3 linked regions of the Homo sapiens genome follow. The protein of the gene in region 2 interacts with the protein of the main gene of each other region in a biochemical or structural test. Each region holds a gene or a part of one and is shown on either strand. Other genes may lie near its edges. The genes, in order: KCNA2, PTPRA and RET.

The links.
Region 1: the proteins of PTPRA (region 2) and KCNA2 form a complex in vitro, tested with the Homo sapiens proteins (one study listed by BioGRID).
Region 3: of the proteins of PTPRA (region 2) and RET, one has a biochemical effect on the other in vitro, tested with the Homo sapiens proteins (one study listed by BioGRID).

The regions. Positions count from the first base shown.
Region 1 is NC_000001.11:110,594,283-110,601,386, reverse strand, and holds part of KCNA2 (potassium voltage-gated channel subfamily A member 2), read left to right. Parts: 3' UTR 1-7,104. UniProt on the Homo sapiens protein: Voltage-gated potassium channel that mediates transmembrane potassium transport in excitable membranes, primarily in the brain and the central nervous system, but also in the cardiovascular system.
Region 2 is NC_000020.11:2,868,739-2,876,488, reverse strand, and holds the start of PTPRA (receptor-type tyrosine-protein phosphatase alpha isoform 1 precursor), read right to left. Parts: upstream 3,009-7,750; 5' UTR 2,729-3,008; intron 1-2,728. UniProt on the Homo sapiens protein: Tyrosine protein phosphatase which is involved in integrin-mediated focal adhesion formation.
Region 3 is NC_000010.11:43,108,069-43,115,172, forward strand, and holds part of RET (proto-oncogene tyrosine-protein kinase receptor Ret isoform a precursor), read left to right. Parts: intron 1-962; coding exon 963-1,162; intron 1,163-3,138; coding exon 3,139-3,397; intron 3,398-4,030; coding exon 4,031-4,156; intron 4,157-4,784; coding exon 4,785-4,895; intron 4,896-5,487; coding exon 5,488-5,607; intron 5,608-6,411; coding exon 6,412-6,668; intron 6,669-7,104. UniProt on the Homo sapiens protein: Receptor tyrosine-protein kinase involved in numerous cellular mechanisms including cell proliferation, neuronal navigation, cell migration, and cell differentiation in response to glia cell line-derived growth family factors (GDNF, NRTN, ARTN, PSPN and GDF15).

The sequences.
Region 1 (7,104 bases), on a different chromosome or scaffold from region 2:
TCGCTAAAGAGCCAGAATGGATCCCCTGCTTTGAAACCAAGGACACCAAGGAGTAGGACTCCCTGGGACCAAATTCCACTGATCTGGACCTAAAGGGAGCCTCCTCTATGTGGAAATGTCTGAAGTCCGGGACTAAGTGATGGAGTCCCTAGATGATCCAAAGGCATCATTTTGATCTCCAGACCCAAACTCTCTCCCCATTAAACTGGCAACCAGAGCTGCTTTTTAAAAAGAACCAAAGGATGGGTAAAGAATCATTTCCCACCCCCCAGAAGAAGTAGAGTGCAAATGAGCACTGCACAGCCTAAAGGTAGACAGTAGGTTGACCCTGAAATGGCTTCAGGTAGGGGGCTTTTAACTCACCAGACTGGGCGTCTTTGCCTTTTGACGGAGTAGCTTAATTTTCCCAAACAGTGAATTGCAGGGGTCGGGCTATGCAGGGGTGGCTCCAGCCCAGGCCTCACTGCTGCCTAGTTAGCACCTACAGTTGTCTTGGGGCATGGGGCACCAGCTCAGGGTGCTAGGCCCAGGGTGCTCATTAGTGCCTGGTCACCCACATCCCCAGGTATCTGCAGGGCATCCCATGCCCAGCACAAAGCCTCTGTGCTTCTCTTCCTCTCCTTCATGGGAGGTGGTGCTGAATTTCCAAGGCATGGGGTGGGAGGGACACAGATCTTTGGAAAATAGAAGGTAAAGCAACCCATATCTGAGGCCTAGGTCAGGGATAGATATCTTATCACAGTGTCCTTGGCCCAGGACTCTAAAATGTTCACATACAGTCATGCACATTCACCACAAAATAGGTACACTGTTGTCACACACAAACATAAAACATGTAACGTGCAAAATACAGACAGACCAGGTTAACATAAAAGCAAACACAGAAGATATATGGTTATAATTGTATATAAAATGCACACTCTGCACAGATATAGAATTTACACAGAACATACACAAAAGACAAACATACACCACATACAAATATACAACCTGAAACTCAGATGCAAAATACATAAAAAACTACATGGACAAAATGCATATGCATATAAGATACACAAAGGCTACTTTACCATTGTTTCTACACATAAAATACACACAAACTCAGTATATACACACGATGCATTAACTTATAATAGGCATACAAGATACATAGCACACATGCCCAAAAATATCGCACAATACACATGAAATGCAGACATATACTCAGACCCATTGCCCTGCCCCCAGAGCTATGAATTAACAGGCACAAACAAAAGATCAGATGTAATCACCTTTGCCTGGCCTGTGTCTATATCCCCCAGGATCTTTCAAGGAATCTCTTTCTCTATTCTTTTCTCTCACTACCAGATTTCACTCCTGAGAAGTAACTCCTAGGTTTCAAGCAGGAGGATGGGCCACCACATCAAGCAGATATCTGACTAAGACCAGGAATTGCATGGGGTCTCTACCAATTCACCTTCCTCCCACCAGAAACCTGGGTGCAGGGTGTGAAAGTACCTGGGACAGCTGGTAGCCTAATATAGGCCTCCTTGCCATGACCCTTCCTTCCTTCCAGCAAATCCGCACAGACAACCCAATAGCCCAGGCTCCCCTTCTCCCAGCACCTGGGATCTCCAGATTCAGCCCTATTCTCTTAAAAGCAGTAATGGCTCAAGAAACTGCAGGATCTTGAGCCCAGGACCAGGGTAAAGATGTCCCCAACATTCTCTAAGCCCACAGATTTTATTGCCCTTCCATCCTTTGCAGCTTTGTTGGGGGCACGGTCAGGAAGTTGAGACCCTATAGAGACCTGTCTCTTAAAATGAGCCACCTTTACTTGCTTGTGGCATTTCACTTGCTCTTGTGCATAAGCCCAAAGGGGCCAACTCCTGATTCCCCTCTGGGTGTGTTCAATCCCGGGCACGCTCTTCCTTTTCCTCTTGTTGGGCTCCCCTGGATGCCCTGCCTCCCATCCAATTGCTATGCAACCCAGTTCAGCTTAAGTAAAAAGTGATTAAGAACATACATCTAAGGCTAAGCAAGCTAACACTTTTTAGAGGGCCTGACTTTATCCTATATTCTAAGGCCATATTTAAATACTTTCTAAGATTACCCACCATTTTGGATTACTCTTGGAGCTGGTTCTTCCCCTAAGTAGGACTAGCTGAGAGCTGAGTGCATTTTAGCAAAGGCTTCACCTACATCGGAAGTAAAGAGTTGCAGTCAGGCTTTGGATCAGGCCTCACTCCTGATTTCTGCTCCTGCAGCCATCCCGTTGTGTCTCACTCTCCCTTCCAGTGATGGTCGCAGCTCCCAGTCTCTACAGAAAAGGTAACAACAGTAGGGAGTGGACATATGGGTCCAAAACGTGTGCTTTGCTGGAAACTTGTGTTTCCAGGTCAAGGTACCATTCCTGTTGGCTTCATCAAGTGCCTCTGTGGATTCATTTTCAAGAAACTTGGAGTTTTCAGGAGACCGAAAAGGAATAGGCCCAGGAAAGGTGGAGAGATTGTCAGGAAGAGAGAGTGGCTGAGTGGGTCAAATTTCAGAGTAAACTTTTTAGGAGCCAACATTTAATTAAGAAAATAATTAAGGCTCTGTGCTTTCTGAAACTTCAGTAATATTTGACATGCTCTCTTCCTTCTTCTCTGCTTGCCTCTGTCCCTCTCACCTGTGTTTCTGAGGCTAGTGTTGGCATGTCACCATGAGGTTAGCCTTTTAAAAGGGGCCCCACGGGAGTGTGCCTCTAGATTGCGTTAGCCTAGTATGGAAAGGGCTCCCATGGAAGCTATGATGGCCTGAGACCCCAGCCTGGGTGTTCATGTTGCTGCTCCGTGTTGGGAGGGCCCAGGACTAGCTTGTTCTACCTATTCTTCCTGGATCTCTCACTATATTATAGTGAGGACTCTATCAGTATCAACCCATGTGGAGAGAGGACAGCACCCTCTGAAGCTCCTCAGGCTGGGGATTCAGCACTGCCCACAGTAGTAGAGTCACAGAGGCTGACTCCCCCCTAAGGAAACTATAGAACAGTGTGCAAATTGCATATGAAGGTGGCACCACTACCCCTATGTCAGGCAGGGGAGCACAGTGCTTTGACTTGTTTACTCAAGAGAGGGGATGATGGTGCTGAGCTCTGCTCCCCAGAGCTTTCCTGGGGCCCATTGTCATAATAACTTGTATGTGGGTGATGGCCGCCTCATCTGCGAGGGCTATAATATCCATGGTGCTCCTTGGTTGCACAATGGAGGTTCCCCTAGCCTTGGCAAGGTATCCATTGCCGGGTTTGAACTCATGACCTTAACCTCATTAACATCATCAGTCACCTGAGCCAACGCGCAGAGAGGGGGATGCTGGGAGCTCTCTCAGTAGCTATTGTGACCATCATCTATATCTTCAGACTTAGCCCTTGTTGAGTCCAACCCTGTTCCCCTATCAAAGCAACCAGCAGGGACAGATGGAGGTAGGGGCTCCCCTACATGCAGGAAGGTTCTCTTCCTCAAACTAACCTAGTTTACTTTTCCTTTTTTTCTGCTTCCCTTCCCACCAAATCTCAGCTTCATCTCTCATAGTTTGTGTTTGAATATTTTTAAAGAGGAAAAGTGCAATAAAATAAATAGTGACTGTTTTCTTTAGCAATAGCTCTTTCAAAATCTTGCTCTCAGGACTGAAAAGTGATAGATAGTACCTGGATTATCAGATAATGCCCTTGACTTCTGGGGGCTCATTCACAGTCTCTGTAGTTTCTTCTTCTTCCCACGTGTTCACATGACTCCTGTCCTCTTGAGATCTGACCTCCTTCTGGAATGGACACATATGCTAAGATGCAGTGTATGCACAAGGAAGGCCTGTGAGAGGGCTTTGTCACTTTGTCTCCTTCCTGTGTGCACCTCTCTGTCTCCATGTGTGTCTCTGTCCCCTCTCCCTCTGTCTCCCCATTTCTGCCTGCTGTCATACAGCATCCTTACAACCTCTAGGCATGAAAATCCTAAGTTTGTGTGACCTTTTCAGCCCATTTTGTTGACTTTCCCTCAGTCTGGCAGATGTAATGGAAGCCTACACGAAAGCACTTCCCAATAGATAAGAATAAAGCATCCTGAGCCATTACAGAAGATCATTTCCATGCACTAAAAGCCATTACTTGATCCTTTTGCTTCCCCTTCTCCCTTCCCCAGGGAGACGGATGCTGAGGGAATGTGGCCTGGAGGTTTGCACTTGGGATCAGTAGCCTGGGCAGATTTGGGAATTGCCCTCTGACTCTCTTTCAAAATAAGCTGACTTGCTCAACCAAAGGGACTCCGTGAGAGCTGCAGAAGGAAGCAGGTTCTTGTGGGTTTCAGTAGAAGTCTACAGGGATAGAAGTTTGGGTGGTTAGGGCATGACATTAGTGAAATAAAGACTCTACCACCCGCTAGAGTGTGCAGCTGCACAAATATTTGCACACATAGCCAGGGGCTTCAGAAGAGTCCCCTTTCCTAACATCTGTGAGCTTAAATGTTCAGACTGGACAATCAGGGAAGGCTGGCAACCCCAGGGTCCCATTCCATCCTTTTTTGATCTACCTTGCTCTATACACATATGTACAGCAAAACCTCAGTTAACTGATGGGGAAACCTCAGGGACAGGAACATCCTGATTGCTTTGCAATTTTGGTTATTTGAGTGGGAATGGGAAAGCATGTCTGGTTCAACCTTTGTTATTGAGAAAAATATTTCCTAAGTAGGTTAGCATAACTTTCCTGCCTTAGTTAAGTAGAGTGTTTGAAGATAACAGGGACCTTGCCTTGCTCAGGGTCAACATTGTAAACCTCAATGCTTATTGTACAGTAGTGGACATAGGTAGAGAAGACCAAAGAGACAGGCTGAATGGCTGCTGGCTACAAGACAGGCCTGGAAATGGGCCACTGGGGCACATCCTGGCTCATCGGAGCCCTTGCTGTCATTTGCCTCTTTCTACTGAAAGGATAGTAAGAAAACATAATTCTTGTCAATCGAGGTTTTGGTTAATTGGTCCTGAGTTTTTAGAGGTTTTCCATATATACATATATTTATGTGTGTATATATATATATATAGTATATGTATATATGTATACTATTTTTAAATTATAGAATTATACATTGACCAATCTCCTTAGTTTCACTTATGTGGAATAAATTTGGCAATCCAAGGAATAAACTGCATTTATGTGCATTTTTTGAATGACCTCCTTTGCATTCTTTTCACCTCTCCAGTTCTACTCTTTTTTTTTCTGCTTAGGGACCTCTCTAGAAGGCAGATCTTTCATAAAAAAAGAACAGGCTACAGGATCACCTCTTTCCTTTCCCTCCCAGGTGGCTGCCTGACTCAGGGATAAAAGGGAAGTCTGATCTAACAGCCAGGTGCTTTAGCCTTTCTTCTGTCTGCCCTGGTTGGCTATAACCTCATCACTGAGGATCAGAAAAGTTATTCCAAACTTTGTACTCGAGGGGAGTGGAAAGCTTGAAGACCTGGCAAAGGATTTATCTATTTAGCATTCTCTTTGTCATTGGTGGTGCCCTAGGTTTGAGGTTTGTGAGATCTGAAAGTAACATTCCAATGAAGAACTAAAGCACATCTCTGCCACACAGAAGGTGAGGTTTGTGGCAATCAATGGAACTAACAAATCCATTCTGTTTTTTATTATGACTAAACCTAAGTTGAGGGTGTGGGTATTAGAGCAGCTGAAATTCAGTTGCCTCTTTGGGGGTAAGCTGTACACATCACTCAAGAAACAGCTGGATGCAAGCTAAAACCTGCTCTCATTCTCCCTCTTGCCTGCTAGTGTGTTAGATCCATGGAAGACAGTTTCTCTCAGCCTCACCTCTTGCATTTGACTGTTGCTTTCTACCTAGATGGGAGTGGGAGGGATTTTTCACTGTATCTGGAGCAATTGAAGTGGTGCAGGGGTGTCTGCCATCTCCCCACACCCACAGAAGCCCTCCAGTCTGGCTATGTTAGTTGTGATCAGGCAGCAGAAGCCCATAACCCAGACTTGACATGACCAGCTGGTGCACTGAGGCAGTTGAGGTGGCCTGTCTGGATGGCTACTTCTTGTACTTCATGAACCTCAGCATGGAAATGGATATAACTTTCTGTGCTCCTCTGCACTCCTAAAATAGTCTAATATGTTCCAGATGAGTTTGCAGCTGAGAACTCCCTGCATCATTCCACTGATGGATGCACAGGGCATGATTATGTAATAATGTGGACAGCTACTGCAACATCTAGATCATTGAGGGCAGTGTAGATGTGGCTGTGTGCTAGGACCCTTGGTAGCTATCCAGAGGACTCAGTCTGGTGTCTTTCTGAGTCTCTGTGAGAGGCCTCTAAGCCCTGCTTCTCCTTGAAAATGATTCCCTAGACACCGAATGCCTTGTTTGTATGAGTGAATAAATGCTCTGGGCTGCTAGAGAAAGCAATAGGAGGAGCTGGGAGGAAGAGAATATTCAGGGGCGCACTTTGCTACCAAACAATTTCCATGTCAGCTGCTAACATTACTGCCTTTTTAGCCTATGAAGTGTAGGGCAAGGACTTTGACCTGCCAGGTGGGGCTGGAAAGGAGCACATCAGCTCCAGGCTAAGAAATGGGATAGAAAAGCAAGAAGAGAGGCCTGGCTGGCTTTGGCGGGGGTGAGTCTCAGCTCCTGAGGGTTTGAACATGCTCTGTGCTTGCCCCAGTTCTGCCTTCACGTGGGATCCAGCGACCCAGTTTCCTTTTGTTGTCGTGCTTGGATGGTTCCTTCATTTGAAGGGCCCCAGGAAGCTGGAAAGTCCCATGATCAAGCTCTAGCCTGCTGAGCAAACAATACCCCAGCCAAATTGGCCTCTTCCTGGTTTTCTGCATCCCTGCACCCCTCTCTCCACTAAGGATAATCTTGGAACAGTTGCGATTAATGGTGCCAGCAATCAAGGAAGATTCTCTAGTTTTCATCAGGGACATAGCTGTAAAGCTCATGAGTGGAGGATGCTATTTCCTTTTCCAGACCTGTGTGCTTATGTGCTTATATAGGCTGCCTCTGGAGACTTTATATTGTGTGTGATGTGTGTGTATATATATATACACACACATATATATATATATGTATATATATATATAGAGAGAGAGAG
Region 2 (7,750 bases):
AATATGTTAAGTAAAAAAACCCAGTAAGGTGTGAGTGGTACGTCCCATGGTGGGAGGAGTATGGATAAGCAGGCACATATTTATAAAGCAACAGTGTCTATGGAAGGCCATATAAACTGAAAACTTCAGCCATCTCTGGGGAGGAGGTTAGGGAGACAGGAGACTTGGGGCCAGGGTAGGAGGGACATTTTTCTCTATATACTCTTTTGTATTGCTAGAACTTTTGAATTTTTCTCTCATCTGCATTAATTATCTTTTCCCAAAATTGAGCAGGATTCTCTCTACACCTTCCTCTGGGTCTAAGAGGCTGTGACTCTACCTCTGTCAGACCCAACCAGTGCCTCCTATATTGCAGGGGCATCTGCATTTGGCCCTATATTGCCCCCAAATGATCTTTCCAAAATTCTTTCAGCCCAAGTCCCTGACCTCCTTTAAATCCTCTAGTAGCTCTCCATTGTCCTTACCTGATCCAGCTATGATTAACCTCTTCCCTCCTCCCCAAGGACAGTGGATTCCTTCCACCACCAAGTTTGCTTGTGCTGCTCCCTCTTGCCTATGTGTGCAGTCCACCACGCGCAAACTCCTATGCATCCTTCATGATCCGAAGGCCCCCCCGTCCCAGGAAAGCTTTCCCAAATCACCCAGGCAGGGGATGCTCCCTACACAGCCTGGCAGAGGCTCTGCAAATACACGGCCAAAATTCAAATCTTGACTATTCCCTCATTTGCCCACTGTTTGGCCTCAGTTTCCAACCCTGTAGAGTAGGAATAAGCCCTTTTATGACTGTTGAAAAGACTGAGGGAATTCATGGAAAACATTACATAGCTTGTCACAAGGCAAATAAAAAATAGCTATTATTATTATCACAATCTTATAGCACCTGTGATGTATTTATATCCACCTGTCCTACATTAGACTCTGAGTTCCTCAAAGGTTAAGGACTGACTTCCTCACTTTTGTATCCCAAGCAATTCACCTGGCAAAGGGAAGACACATGAATGTACTGAAGTCAGAGGGGTGGTTTTTCTGGTTCTGTATTTCACCCAGATGTTAAGTGGCTAAACAGAGAACAGGCCCCGGGATCCCACCATGCCTTACAATGCACGGTATCAGCCAGGTCACTTTGAGCAGGCAGAGGTGAAAAGAGACTGAAGGGCTTTTAGTCTTTCAGAGACAGTTTTTTGGAGGCCAGTGGGATATGGGACCTACCAGTTCCCACCTGCTGACTGCTTATGGGGGCTGGGTGGGATGGACATGGGGAAGCCGGGAATCAGAAATACTAAAAGTCCTGGGCATGTACTCCAAGCAGGCCTTCAAAACACGAAAAAATCTCTTGGGAAGTGGATACCGGGAAATAAACAGAGCCTAGGCATAAGAGAGAAGAGATTGGAAAGAATCTACAAGACAACTTGGAGGATTCTCCCACCACGGGAGATAGAAAGGTGGGCAAGACACAGCTCCTGCCCGCAAGAAGCTTCTCAAATGAGAAGAACTTTAAAAGAAAAAGTGGAGCTTGGCAGGTAAAGGTGGGGAAGAAAGAGGATCACATAAAACAAAAACATCCCAACATGTGAGGGGGCAGTCAAGCAGCTCTGAATACTAGCCAGCAAGCGGGATGAGGGGAAGGAGAATTGGAGGATCCGATTAGGCTAAAAGTAAAGGAGTAAATTGAGGCAAGATTGTCAAGGGCTTTGTATGACCTGATAAGGCATTTTAGGCTTCATTCATCCCATGGGAAAAAGAAAAGCGAGGGAGTTTTTAAGTAAACAAGTGACAGCATCAGATCTGTTTCTGAAAGGAGTGGCCAGGCAGGAAGATGTTCGCCCTTTCCTAGTCAGTCCTCCTCTCGCCCACCATCTTCTGTTTCTCAGGCTGCCTGCACAGCTAGCAGGTGGCAAACGAAGCCATCTCCAGGGTGATGTGGACTGGTTCTAGAGCCGGAATCCCTCTCCTGAGCAAAGGCTTCTGATGGCGTTCACCCTGCAGAGGGTGGATTTGCACATTCTTCTTTTCCTGTCTTACAAATATCATCAGTGATCTCAAAAATAAAAACGAAACCCTCAAGACAGGACTCTGCTCTGCTATTTTTTTTTTTTAATCTTCAGGAGATATAATTAGTAACTAATTTTTTCAAAAAAAATTTTTTATTTACCGAAAGTAAAAAGGGAGGGGACCTGCGTTCTCAATTGGCCTATTCTGAATTCTGGGCAGCTCTCAGCCCTTATTTCCCTTCTTAAACAGCCTCAACAGTTGGGAGAGGGCGGCAAGGAGAGGGGCCTGGGAGACGGGCCGGGGGACCGAGGGAGGTGGACTTGAAGGGAAAGAAAAGTTGGTCACTGCAAAAGCAAATTTTCTCATGCCAAGAGTTTTCCTCTTTCCTCCCATTAAATGGACCTGAGCAAATTCTGTTCTCGCCGTTCTAAGTTTCTTCTCTGAGAATCAACTCTGGCAGTGCCCTGGCCTGGTCCCAGAAGGACGCATGCAAAGTTCCTGGGCAGTCGCGAGGGGTCGGCACTCGGGCCGGCACGTTTCCGGGGACCCCCTCCCCGCGACGGACCCGCAAGGATGCACAATCAACCTGCAGGCGCCCGCAGGCTTCTACCCGGAAAAGATGGCTTAGGGCTTCGGGCTCCGGGCTCTGGGCTGTGGCCCGGGACCCCTCCCACCGCCCCCGGGAGCCGCTCCCCCTTCCGGAGCCCACCCGGGCGCAGCGGCCGCGAACACTCACAGAGTCGGGCGTTGGGCGGGACCGCTGGGGACGAGGACAGCGGCTCCGCCTCGGCTCCGCGGCGGCGTTTCGGGCCGCCACTAGCCCTCAGGGCCGCCGCCCGGCCCGCGGCTCCGAGCCCCGCGGCGGCGGCGGCGGCCTCGCCTCCATGGCGAGGGGAAGCGGCTGAGGGGCGACTGGGCGGGCGACAGTGATGGCGGCAGCGGCCGGGGTCCGAGCGCGATCGCGCGCGCGCGCGTCTCTGTCAGCGCCGCACTCGCCGCAGCCTCGCTCCCGACCCGGCCTTGGCTGTAAGACGCGTGTTCATTGGCTGTTCAGAGACAGGCGCTGGTTGGCCGACAGCGAACGGGCGTCTCCGGCCCGCGCGGGCCCCGCCCTTGCGCTCCGCTGGGCGCTCACTTGCCGGCTGGGGCGCCGAACCCGGTCGCACGTTCTCCTGGTAGCTCCAGAGGGGTTCGCCCCGGGGCTGCCCAGTCCTTCGGGAAGCTGGACCCCGGAAGGACCGGCTGCGAGTGCACCAGTGCCTTCAGCCATTCTACAGTCACAGGCCTCATGACTTGGGCCTTCTTCCCAGTTTACAGATCAGGAAACCGAGGCCAGGCACAAACTACACCAATGTCTAGCCACCAGGGCGGCCTGCAACTCGAGAGCCATCTTCCTAACCCTCTCCAAACGTGATACTGTGGGTCTTTTTTTTCCCTCCCCTAATTGCTGCAAAGAACGACGGATCTCACTGGGGAGGGAGAGGAACCTGCCAAGTCCCTAGAACGGATCTGGCTCCGTGGGTGTCGTCTTATATCAAGTCAGCCCACGCCGTCCCCACCCGAGCTCCAGGGTAATCTCCCCCGCTTTCCAGATGCGCATGCTGGGGCCCCGCTCGCCACCGAGCTGAGTAGAAGCACAACACATGGTGCTCTGCGATGGAGGTGCCTTTTGCGATACGCCTGGCGGGGGAGGGGAGGCTCAAAACGCAGAGAGGAGCCAGAGTGCGCCCTCCCCCGGCCGGGGTTGGGGCGCGTACCCCCTTCCCGGCGCTCCCGGCACGGCGTCTGGTGCGTGACACCCGCGAAGCAATCGCTCAGTCCATCCAGCGGCAGCAGGTTCCTACACGGATCCCCGCGGGTGCTGCAGGACCTGAGCGTCTGCGGCTGAAAGCCGATTACGCAGTCGAGATAGGTGGTGGCAAATGCGACATTTCGCCGGGTTGTGATCCCCAGTAGGGACCCCTGGACATTCCGAGACCCGCGCAGGGCGAGCGGCTGGGCGTCTGCAGGCAAAAGACAGATTGCACAGTAGCGCACAAACCGAGCTTGCGGGTAGGGGACGCTTTATCCCAGACCCAGAGTCTGCGGTTCCCGGGGTAGGTGGCGGCGAGTCTCTCCTCCAGACCGGGCAACCCCTGAGTCCCCCTCACGCACCCCAGGCCGGAAGGAGTCCCACATTCGGGGCGCCCCCGGGGAAGGGTTGTGACCGGCGGCAACTCTTCATGGCAGGAAACACTGCGGCGCAAAAGGGGCTCCCAGCAGCCCCCACCATCTCCAGTCCTACCATCTCCGGTCCCCACCACCGCCTTCTGTTGGGGCGCCAGTTAGGGACTCTGTGCCCCACTCCTCCGTATTGTGGGCTCACATCAGCAGCCCCTACCATCTCCAGTCCTACCATCTCCGGTCCCCACCACCGCCTTCTGTTGGGGCGCCAGTTAGGGACTCTGTGCCCCACTCCTCCGTATTGTGGAATAAGTTAGTCCATGCTAACCAGAGCCAGGGCCTGGGAATATGGGTGGGGCGGGCCTCAGGCCGTCCCCTCCCCAGCAGGGAAGTCTCTCCTTGAGTGGGAGTTGTGACTCTCTCTCCCTCTCAGCAGGGCCAGCCTAGAGGTGAGGGTGAAATGGCCGAACCCGACACCTCTGACCAATAGACACTCCAGCCCAAAGGCCCAGAGTCCACACGCCTACTCTCCTAACGCTCAGACCCCAGTGAGGGTGGATCCTTCCCCACGCCCAACATTCACATATCCCCTTAAGTCCAAACTCAATCTATCCCGCAACACCGAATGGAAAAGTGAAAAGCAGGAAGTCAAAGTGTGAAAACCCCTAACAAGTAATGACTGCAAACGCAGGAGGTACCTCAGTAGCTGGGATAGCAGCCCTATGCTCTAGAACCAAACCCCACCAGCTTACTTTTGCCTTATATCTAATTTACACTATTATTTCTTAATATGTTTCTTTTTGTTGATTAGTTTTTTTTTACTTTTTATTTGTATTACCCTAGAAGGGGTTGACATGCTACTTATATTTTTAATATAACTGAAATAGTGATTGCAGTAAGTGTTCATCTTTGAGATTATCTGAAGGACCCCTTTTGGATATGACCACACTTGGAAAAATTGTTGTTGGGCGTGGTAGTCAAAGAGCCCGGGGTTTCCAGCCCCACCATGTGCTGGGTGACCTGAGCCTCCCTCTGCAACTCTTCCTGGAACTTCCCAGGGCTGTATTGAGAATTAGGCATGTTCAGCTTGGCAAGTAACCCATTCTCAGGAAATGAAAGTTCTTTCTCTCCCCATGAGACAGCTGCACTATGGTCAAAGCATTTGTGGGGTGTGCACAGGGGTGACAGAACTACAGACCAAGGAGAACTACAGACCCTGGAGACCCTGGGAAGGAGGGTTCAGCTCAGCAACCACACAGATGCTGTTTCCATTGGAAGAAGACAGAGCCCCCTCCTCAGCTGCCTGCCTGTAGAGACCTGCCCAGCCCTCCATCCTACTTGGCTCCCAGAGTGTCCTGAGCTCCCTCGCCCATCATCATCACAGAGTAAAGGGTTATCCTGGAAGAGAAGAGAACTGAGGAAGGGAAAGGAGGCAGTTTCCTGTGCCCAAGCCTACCCAAATGGGGGACTGCAGAGCCCTCCTACTCCTAGTCCTGCATTAGTCCCAACCCACAGGAGCACATACCTACAGGTAGGCATTTCGCAGCCACCCCACAGGTGCCCCAACAGTCACAGGGTTTATGAGCAAAGGAGAGGATCAGGAGAGCTGGAGGATGGGGGGAAAGGACTCCTGTTTCTTTAGGCAAGTCATTTCCCCTCTCGGGGCCTCCTTTCCCCTTCTAGTAAATGGAACAATGAGTCATTCTCGCAACAAATACTTATTGAGTGCAGACCATGTGCTGGACACAGCAGGGAATAAGACAGAAGAGGACAGAAGAGGCCTCTGCTCTCAGGAGCTTACATTCTGGATAGGAACACAGACAATAAACAAAAGAACAAGAAAATTTCCTAAATGCTGAAATGAAAATAAAGCAAGGCAATAAGATAGAAAGGTGAAGTAAATGAGAGCCAAGTCCCTTTGCAGGCCACACTGTTCAAACCCGAGTTTTTTTTTTCTTTTTTTTGAGACGGAGTTTTTGCTCTTGTTGCCCAGGCTTGAGTGCAATGGCACGATCTCGGCTCACTGCAACCTCTGCCTCCCGGGTTCAAGCGATTCTCCTGCCTCAGCCTCCCGAGTAGCTGGGATTACAGGCATGCGCCACCACGCCTGGCTAATTTTGTATTTTTAGTAGAGACAGGGTTTCACCATGTTGGCCAGGCTGGTCTTGAACTCCTGACCTCAGGCGATCTGCCTGCCTCAGCCTCCCAAAATGCTGGGATTACAGGGGTGAACCACTGCGCCTGGCCAACCCCAAGAGTCTTTCACTGGAACTTTGTATCTAAGAGACTGGACATACAGCCCCTTACCCTGAGAAGGTGAGTTGTAGGAGCCTTTGCTCGATATATATATATATATTTTTAAGACAGAGTTTCACTCATTGCCCAGGCTGGAGTGCAATGGCGCCATTTCAGCTCACTGCAACCTCCACCTCCTGGGTTCAAGCAATCAAGCGATTCTCCTGCCTCAGCCTCCCAAGTAGCTGGGATTACAGGACCCGCCACCACCCCCAGCTAATTTTTTTGTATTTTTACTAGAGACAGGGTTTCACCATGTTGGCCAGGCTGGTCTCAAACTCCTGACCCCAGGTGATCCACCCACCTAAGCCTCCCAAAGTGCTGGAATTACAGGCATGAGCCACTGCGCCCAGCCTTTGCCCTGATTCTCCCTGCACTGGCTACCACTGATACAAGAAGAAATGTTCCCAGATTCTTTGCCTCCAGCTACACAGTCCTAGTTCCTAGCCCCAATCCTAGCGTCATACATTGGACGAAACTTGGCCCTGCCCACCCATGTAGGCATAGGCCTGCTGTACAAACTGCTCAGGGCAGAAGGCATCTCACACTAATTTCAATTGAGTAAGCAAGGATTTGAAAAAAGAAAATCCCAGTTCTGGTTTTTAAATGTCACAATTCATAGGCTTATACATCTGTCAAAACTTAGAAAATTACATTTAAGATCTGTGGATTGCAATGTATGTAGATTTTGCCTGAAAAGAAAAAAAAAATTGCAAACCAAAAATGAACTCTAGTTATTGAAATGCATACTGAAGTATTTAGGGGGAGGTGTACTGATGTCTGCAACTTACTTTGAAATATATGAAAAATACGATGGATTGACATAGAGGAATGGATAGATGAACAGATGTGTGATATAGTAAGATGCTAATGGTAGAATCCAGTGGTAGTTACACAAATGTTCACTGTAAAATTATTTCTACCTGGCTGTATGTTTGAAAGTTTTTATAATAAACTGTGGAGGTGGGGGGCAAATCAGTGATTAACTTTACAAAAAAGTATACAAAACTGCCTTTTTAAAGCAACTCTCCCCATAGACAATTCCAATGCTTCTCTACATGCACACACACCTTTTATAAAGTTGAAATCACTGTTGATATACATTTGTCATCAGTTAAAAGTTATTTCTCACATATTTCTAAAACTTCATATGTACAGTGTTTGTTTACATAGCCTATGAGTAAATATACTGTATGTTACTTTGGAGATGTGGGTTTTGTATTGTGTACATTCTAAAAGCACTGGTCAAGCCTCCCTTTCCAGAGAGGAAAACTGGGTTGTTTGATAGCAATCCTTTTTC
Region 3 (7,104 bases), on a different chromosome or scaffold from region 2:
GCATAGTGGCTCACGCCTGTAATCCCAGCACTTTAGGGAGACCGAGGCGGGTGGATTGTTTGAGTCCAGGAGTTCGAGACCAGCCTAGGCAACATGGTGAAACCCTGTCTCTACAAAAAAAAAAAAAATACAAAAAATTAGCCAGGCGTGGTGGCACATGCCTGGATTCCAGGAACCTGGGAGGCTGAGGTGGGAGGATGGCTGGAGCCTGGGAGGTCAAGGCTGCAATGAGATGCAACAGAGCAAGACTCTGTCTCAAAAAAGAAAACCAATGTTATGGTTTGTAGGGTGTTTCTTAACCCTTGCCTGGCATGGCCTTAGGTCCTGTTTATAATTTGGTATCTTACTGCCACAAAGAGTCCGATCTGTCAGTCTTATGATCTCTGTTTTAATGTTAATGCCGGTCAGTTGTGTCCAAACTCCAGCAGGAAGAGGGCCTAATAAGGCAAGTCCACCCTGCCTTCCTGTCATGGCCCAGAATTCTGTTTTTAAGGTTTTTCTGGTGTCCCTTGGCCAAGAGGGGATCTATTCAGTTGGTCCGGGGACTCAAGATTTTAGTTTCAGTTTACAACTCTATACACAAACACCCCATACACACAGGCACCAATACCCTATGCACAGACACCACACAAATGCATACTACACACTTACACATACCACACACACGCATACCATGCAAGCATATCATACACACAGACACCCCATACAATGCGTACACATGCACACACACACAGGCTGCCTCAAATTGAGAAGGGTTCCTTGGACTTTCAGTTCAGTAAATCCCAACGTTTGAACATTGGTGCTAACTTAGGACCAGCCCCAGGCCTGTTGCATGGCACTGTATGTGTGAAAGTGCGTGTTTGCACCAGTGTGAGTGCAGGGCTGTGTCTGGGAAGAGGTGTGCTACACATGAGGAAGCAGCCAGAGCAGCTTGGTGGTCATTGTTGTGCCCCTACCTGCAGGGCTGGTTCTCAACCGGAACCTCTCCATCTCGGAGAACCGCACCATGCAGCTGGCGGTGCTGGTCAATGACTCAGACTTCCAGGGCCCAGGAGCGGGCGTCCTCTTGCTCCACTTCAACGTGTCGGTGCTGCCGGTCAGCCTGCACCTGCCCAGTACCTACTCCCTCTCCGTGAGCAGGAGGGCTCGCCGATTTGCCCAGGTGAGCCCATACCTATTGCCTGTCTGGGGAAGATTGAAAGGCCAAGGGACATGGGGGCACAGGGAGGCAGGTGACACTGCCTCTTGGCCCAACCAGCACAGAGTAGACTGGGTGGAGTCCTGAGCCCAGGGCCAGGAGGTACAGCTGTGTGCACAGAAGAGGCCTGGGAGAGCTCACAGTGGGCAGGGCTGGGGGCTCCTTGGGCCTCTCTTTTTTTCCCCTTTCCATTCTTGGTATCTTTAAAATGTATTTTCAAAAATGCAAGAGCAATACTGGGTAAATCTGCATATGGTGACTCGGAAGAATCTTCCTGGTGGATTGGTGAGAGTGGCTTGCAGAGATGTTGGTCCCACGTGACTCCCTTTGTGCAAAAGCAGATCTTCCCTGACAGGGATCTGCAAGTGTGCAGAGATCACAGTGCTGTCCACAGTGGTGCCCTCAGGGGGAGGCAGGAAACGCTTCCACTTTTTACTTTTTGTAACTAGGTTTGCTAGAAAGCGTATATTTATATTTGTCTTTGGAAAATAATGATTAGAAATAGAAGGCATAAAAGTAATAAATATTCATTAAAGAAGATGAGGCATGAGGCATGAGGCGTGATCCCTTCTACCCATAGGCGCCAGTGTTGCACATCGTGGTGTTCTTTCTGGGATGTTTCTCGTAAGCACTTATTAAGTTGACTTGAAACTGCAGCACGCATGTTCTCGCATGCCGCTCTCCCTTGCAGAGCAGCCCGTGGCGCCTCCTCTTCAGGGGCCATCTGCCAGTTCTTTCGGGTGGTTCTGTGCCCGCATCAGCTCCTGGCAGCCACCCGTGTCCAGCCCACGAGGGAGCCCACCCTTGGACATATCTAAGCTCCCCGACCACCTCCTTGGCCTTTAATGGGAGTGGGATCAGAGACAGAGGGGCGACAAGACAGAGGGCCCCGGGGGGTCTCATGGGGGGCGGGGCAAGAGCAGGCATTGCTGAAGTTGGGTCACCTGCCCTCTGTCAGGAGCAACGGGGGCCTGAATCCCAGTCCAGCCTCAGCCTCACTGTGGTCTCACCTTTCTCCCCAGTTTGTAAAGCTGTGAATTAGGGACAGGAACCCTGAACAATTTTGAGAGTCACATGAGCATTTGGAAGTGGGCTTTGTAGGGGAAAGTGAGGAGGCCCAGGAGGCTGGTTTTTGCTGTGGTCACTTGTGGGCCTGGGAGAGCCCAGCCCTGCTCTGGCCCGCCCCCATCTCGCCATCTGTGGAACTTTTGGTTTCAAGCAGCTGCAAGAGTTGCCAAGAGGTTGAAAGAATTCAGCTGCCTGACTCCAGGTCCTGGCATCCCCAGGAGAGGCCCCTCTTTCCCAGGGGCTCTGGTCAAAGTCCCAGAGCCTGGCATCCCCAGGAGAAGAGGCTCCTCTTTCCCAGAGGCTCTGCTCAAAGTCCCAGGGAGGCCCCCTGGTCCTGCATGGGCTGGGGCAACCATGCTCCCGAGTCTTGTGGCTGGGGTTCAGTGCTCTGACCAGGGGACACCAGGGCAGGGTGGACCTCTAAACCCTGTGCACTGAGGGAGGAGTGAGGGGTCCCCAGAGCACTGCTGGGGCAGCTGGGAGCAGCCAGGGAGGAGCCTGGGAGACATTCCGGCGGCTTTGTTGTCTGAGTGAGGGAGGAAAGGGGAGTAAAGGGTTGAGTCAGGGCCTGCCTGGGGCTTTTCCTGCCACCAAACTGAACCTCGAGGCCCTGGGTTGCCTTGACCTCCAGCTCCCAGGAACAGGGGCAGCTGGTAACATGTGGCCTGAGTGGAACGGGGCAGGGCAGGGCTGGGGCAGGTGGGTGGGTATGAAGGCTCTGAGGGGTGGAGGACAGGGTGCTCGGGGGGGCTGCTGTCTCCAGGCCCAGTTGGGGGCTGTTCCAGGACTTAGGCTGTGTGGGAATCTCTACCCTCAGGCCATTACAGGCCGGTCCAGCTGCCTGGCTAAGGTGTTCCCCTGTGCCCCCCTAGATCGGGAAAGTCTGTGTGGAAAACTGCCAGGCATTCAGTGGCATCAACGTCCAGTACAAGCTGCATTCCTCTGGTGCCAACTGCAGCACGCTAGGGGTGGTCACCTCAGCCGAGGACACCTCGGGGATCCTGTTTGTGAATGACACCAAGGCCCTGCGGCGGCCCAAGTGTGCCGAACTTCACTACATGGTGGTGGCCACCGACCAGCAGACCTCTAGGCAGGCCCAGGCCCAGCTGCTTGTAACAGTGGAGGGGTCATGTGAGTGCCTGCTCCAGGGAGGGAGGGTCGGGGTCCTGGGGGCTTCTGGAGCCTGGGCCTCCTGCCCTTTGAGAAAAGCAGTACAGCTGCAAGGCTTAGCTGGGGAGTGGGGAAGGCATGGACCAGCTTCACCCTGAGTGACCCAGCAGTAAATGGTTGCTCCTTCCAGATAACATACAGGACCTTGGGTAAATTTGAATTTTGGGTAAACAACAAGCAGTTTTTTGGTATAGGTGTGTTCCATGCAACTTTTGCAGCTTCTCGAAAGACACACCTCTAGGTCCATCCATGCCCTCTTAGGAACATGCTGACACAGCTGCCATTCATGCCATTCATTGTGTATCTGAAATGTAGGTCCCACAGGGCGTCGTTGGCTGAATCTGGCTGCACTCACATCCTTCCTCCTGTACTTACCCCAGCCCAGGTGACCCCTGCTTTGTGACCATGATGTCCTGTACCCTGCCCTGCGCCCTGTGCTCCTGGCACTGTCTTTGCTGCCCTGGGTCTGTCACTCCGGTCCCCTTGGGCTCCATCCGTGGGCAGCTCAGCTGGTGCTGTTCCCTGTCCTTGGGCACTAGCTGGACGCTGGGCCCAGGCCAGCCCCCTGTGACCCTGCTTGTCTGCCACCTGCAGATGTGGCCGAGGAGGCGGGCTGCCCCCTGTCCTGTGCAGTCAGCAAGAGACGGCTGGAGTGTGAGGAGTGTGGCGGCCTGGGCTCCCCAACAGGCAGGTGTGAGTGGAGGCAAGGAGATGGCAAAGGTAAGCCCTGGAAACGCCCAAGGGAGGCCTGCAGGGGCGATGGCACCGGTGGAAACGGGGTCCTGGGGCCCTGCCAGCCTGGGGTGGCTCTCCCTGCTCCAGGTCTGCTTCTGGCACCTCATCCCCCATGTGGCTCTCGATGCCAGCATAGCGGGCAGCAGTGCAGGGCTTGGGAGAGGGCTTGTGAGTACAGTGAATGGTCCCCAGGCCGGATTCACTCTGGACTTGGGAAGGTCTGAACCAAAGTTGGGATGTGCTGGGGACAGAATGGCGTTTTTCTGGGAGGTCCTCGGCCAGGGGATGTGGTGTGGGCAGGGGACTCATTGTCTGCATCAGCCAGAGGCCAGCCTGGGTGTGCCCACCACCATGAGGGGCCCTCACCATGCAGCCCTGAGAGGGTCCCGGCCTCTTTGCTGTAAGGGCCACCTGTGTGAGGAACCCCCCATACCTCCTCTCCCATAAGCCATGGCTCCCCAGGATGCTTCCGCTGGCAAGGCTCTGTATATGGTGTTTCCCTACTCAGGCCTCCAGTTGCTCCTCCCTAGAGGGGCAGGATCTGCCTAGGAGGTGGTGGGGGCGTGTGGCGGGGCTCCCACATGGGTGACAGCCTGCTGTGTGTCCTGTGCAGGGATCACCAGGAACTTCTCCACCTGCTCTCCCAGCACCAAGACCTGCCCCGACGGCCACTGCGATGTTGTGGAGACCCAAGACATCAACATTTGCCCTCAGGACTGCCTCCGTAAGCAGGGTTTAATCAGGGCATGGGAACAGGTAGGAGATAGTAGGGGAAACCTGGATCCCACAGGCACTTCAGCCAGAGTTGCCAGGGCTGTCAGTTCTATGCATCAAGCTGAGCCTCCTGTGCATTTCAGCATCACCCTAGCCATGGGGAGGGAGCAGGCAGGGTCAGGGACAGGGGGAAGGCAGGGACCCACAGACTGTCCAGGCCCCTGCTGAGGTCCCAGAAGTCGGCACACACAGATTTCAGAAGCAGAGAATGGTCAGTAGGGACACTGACAGGGAAAGTGCGGCCCTGAGCCAGACGAGGGACACTGCAATGTGCGGGTCAGGCCACCAGGCTCCAGTTTTGGAGGCAGAGTCCTTTGTTCAGATGAAATGTTAGGAGGGGGCCTGGCTTCACCCATGGCTTCAGAAAGGCACTGTGACCAAGCCCTGCCCGGCTAAGCCAAGCTGCTGGGCCCCTGGCCTCACTGGGCCTATGCTTGCGACACCAGTTGGGGAGGGGGCTCCTTGGGACACTGCCCTGGAAATATGGGCGCCTGGGGTGGTCAGGCGCCCCAGGAGGCTGAGTGGGCTACGTCTGCCCTCAGGGGGCAGCATTGTTGGGGGACACGAGCCTGGGGAGCCCCGGGGGATTAAAGCTGGCTATGGCACCTGCAACTGCTTCCCTGAGGAGGAGAAGTGCTTCTGCGAGCCCGAAGACATCCAGGGTGAGTGGGTGGCGGCCGGGACCACCACCACCTCCCAGCCCCACAGAGGTCTCAACAGCACATCTGAGGTCCCAACAAGGGAGGAAATTGCTGGGAGGCGAGTGGGCCCCATGAAACTTCCCTCCCTCCCTCTGGGCCTCTGTTACTCCACCCAGGAGAGGGGCCAGGGCCCCTGTAAAGTGTCTTCTGGCCATAAGTTCTATGATGGACAGGCCAGAAAAGCAGTTCTTCCACCAAACAACTTGTCAGCCTGACAAGTCACTGTCCCTGTGACCATGCAGCTGGGACCCACCCAGGAACACATTTCAAGGTCAGCAGGTATGGTGGGTTGCACAGCCACACTGACTACACTCAGGGGTGCTGTTCTGCCTGAGCATAGGGACACGTTTCTGTCATTGAGTTTTCTGGTATTATATAGCCCTACGTCCCTAGCCACTTAGCATTTTCATAAAGAAAATGCCAAAGACATTTGGAACAGAGGAAAATTTTGACCTCCCCTGCCAGCCCTCCAGTGCCAGCTGGTGTAATGAGCACAGCCTCTGCTGTGTGACCTTGGCAGGCTGCTCAGCCTCTCTGAGCCTCTGTCTCCATCTGTAAGAGGGCAATAGTGGTCTAGGAGGGGGCAGTAAATGGCAGTACCCATGCTCGATGGGGTGTTCTCAGGCCTTCCCACACCTCCATGGCCACTTCCCAGCTGGCGCGGACACGGCAGGCTGGAGAGCCATGAGGCAGAGCATACGCAGCCTGTACCCAGTGGTGCCGAGCCTCTGGCGGTGCCAAGCCTCACACCACCCCCACCCACAGATCCACTGTGCGACGAGCTGTGCCGCACGGTGATCGCAGCCGCTGTCCTCTTCTCCTTCATCGTCTCGGTGCTGCTGTCTGCCTTCTGCATCCACTGCTACCACAAGTTTGCCCACAAGCCACCCATCTCCTCAGCTGAGATGACCTTCCGGAGGCCCGCCCAGGCCTTCCCGGTCAGCTACTCCTCTTCCGGTGCCCGCCGGCCCTCGCTGGACTCCATGGAGAACCAGGTCTCCGTGGATGCCTTCAAGATCCTGGTGAGGGTCCCTGCGGGGCAGGGAAGATCCCCTGCCCTCCCCAGCTGCCTTCCAGGGAGGGAGGCCAGCTGGGGAGACAGAGGCCATCCTGTGAGGGGCTGCCAACGCTGGGCAGACGAGGCCTGTGTTCTGCCCCCATTTCCATAGGGCGCTGTGTGGGGACAGTCTGTGGGGTGGGACTGTGATGAGGTGCCGTTCCCATCTAGGTGAGAGGCAGTGGTCAGGGTCACAGCATCGGGCAGGGGAGCAGCAGTGTGGATGGAGGGGCACTGAAGTCAGAAGGGGGTGCCTTTCTGGGGAGCCTGGCCTGCAGGTCTGCATGTGCTACTCAGAGCCTCCAGGCTGTGCCGAGTATCCTGGAGCCTCCTTGTCCCGGCCAGGCAGGCCTCTGCCCTCTCCTGGTGGTGGCCTGCCCCTTCAGTGTTCCTACTAGCAC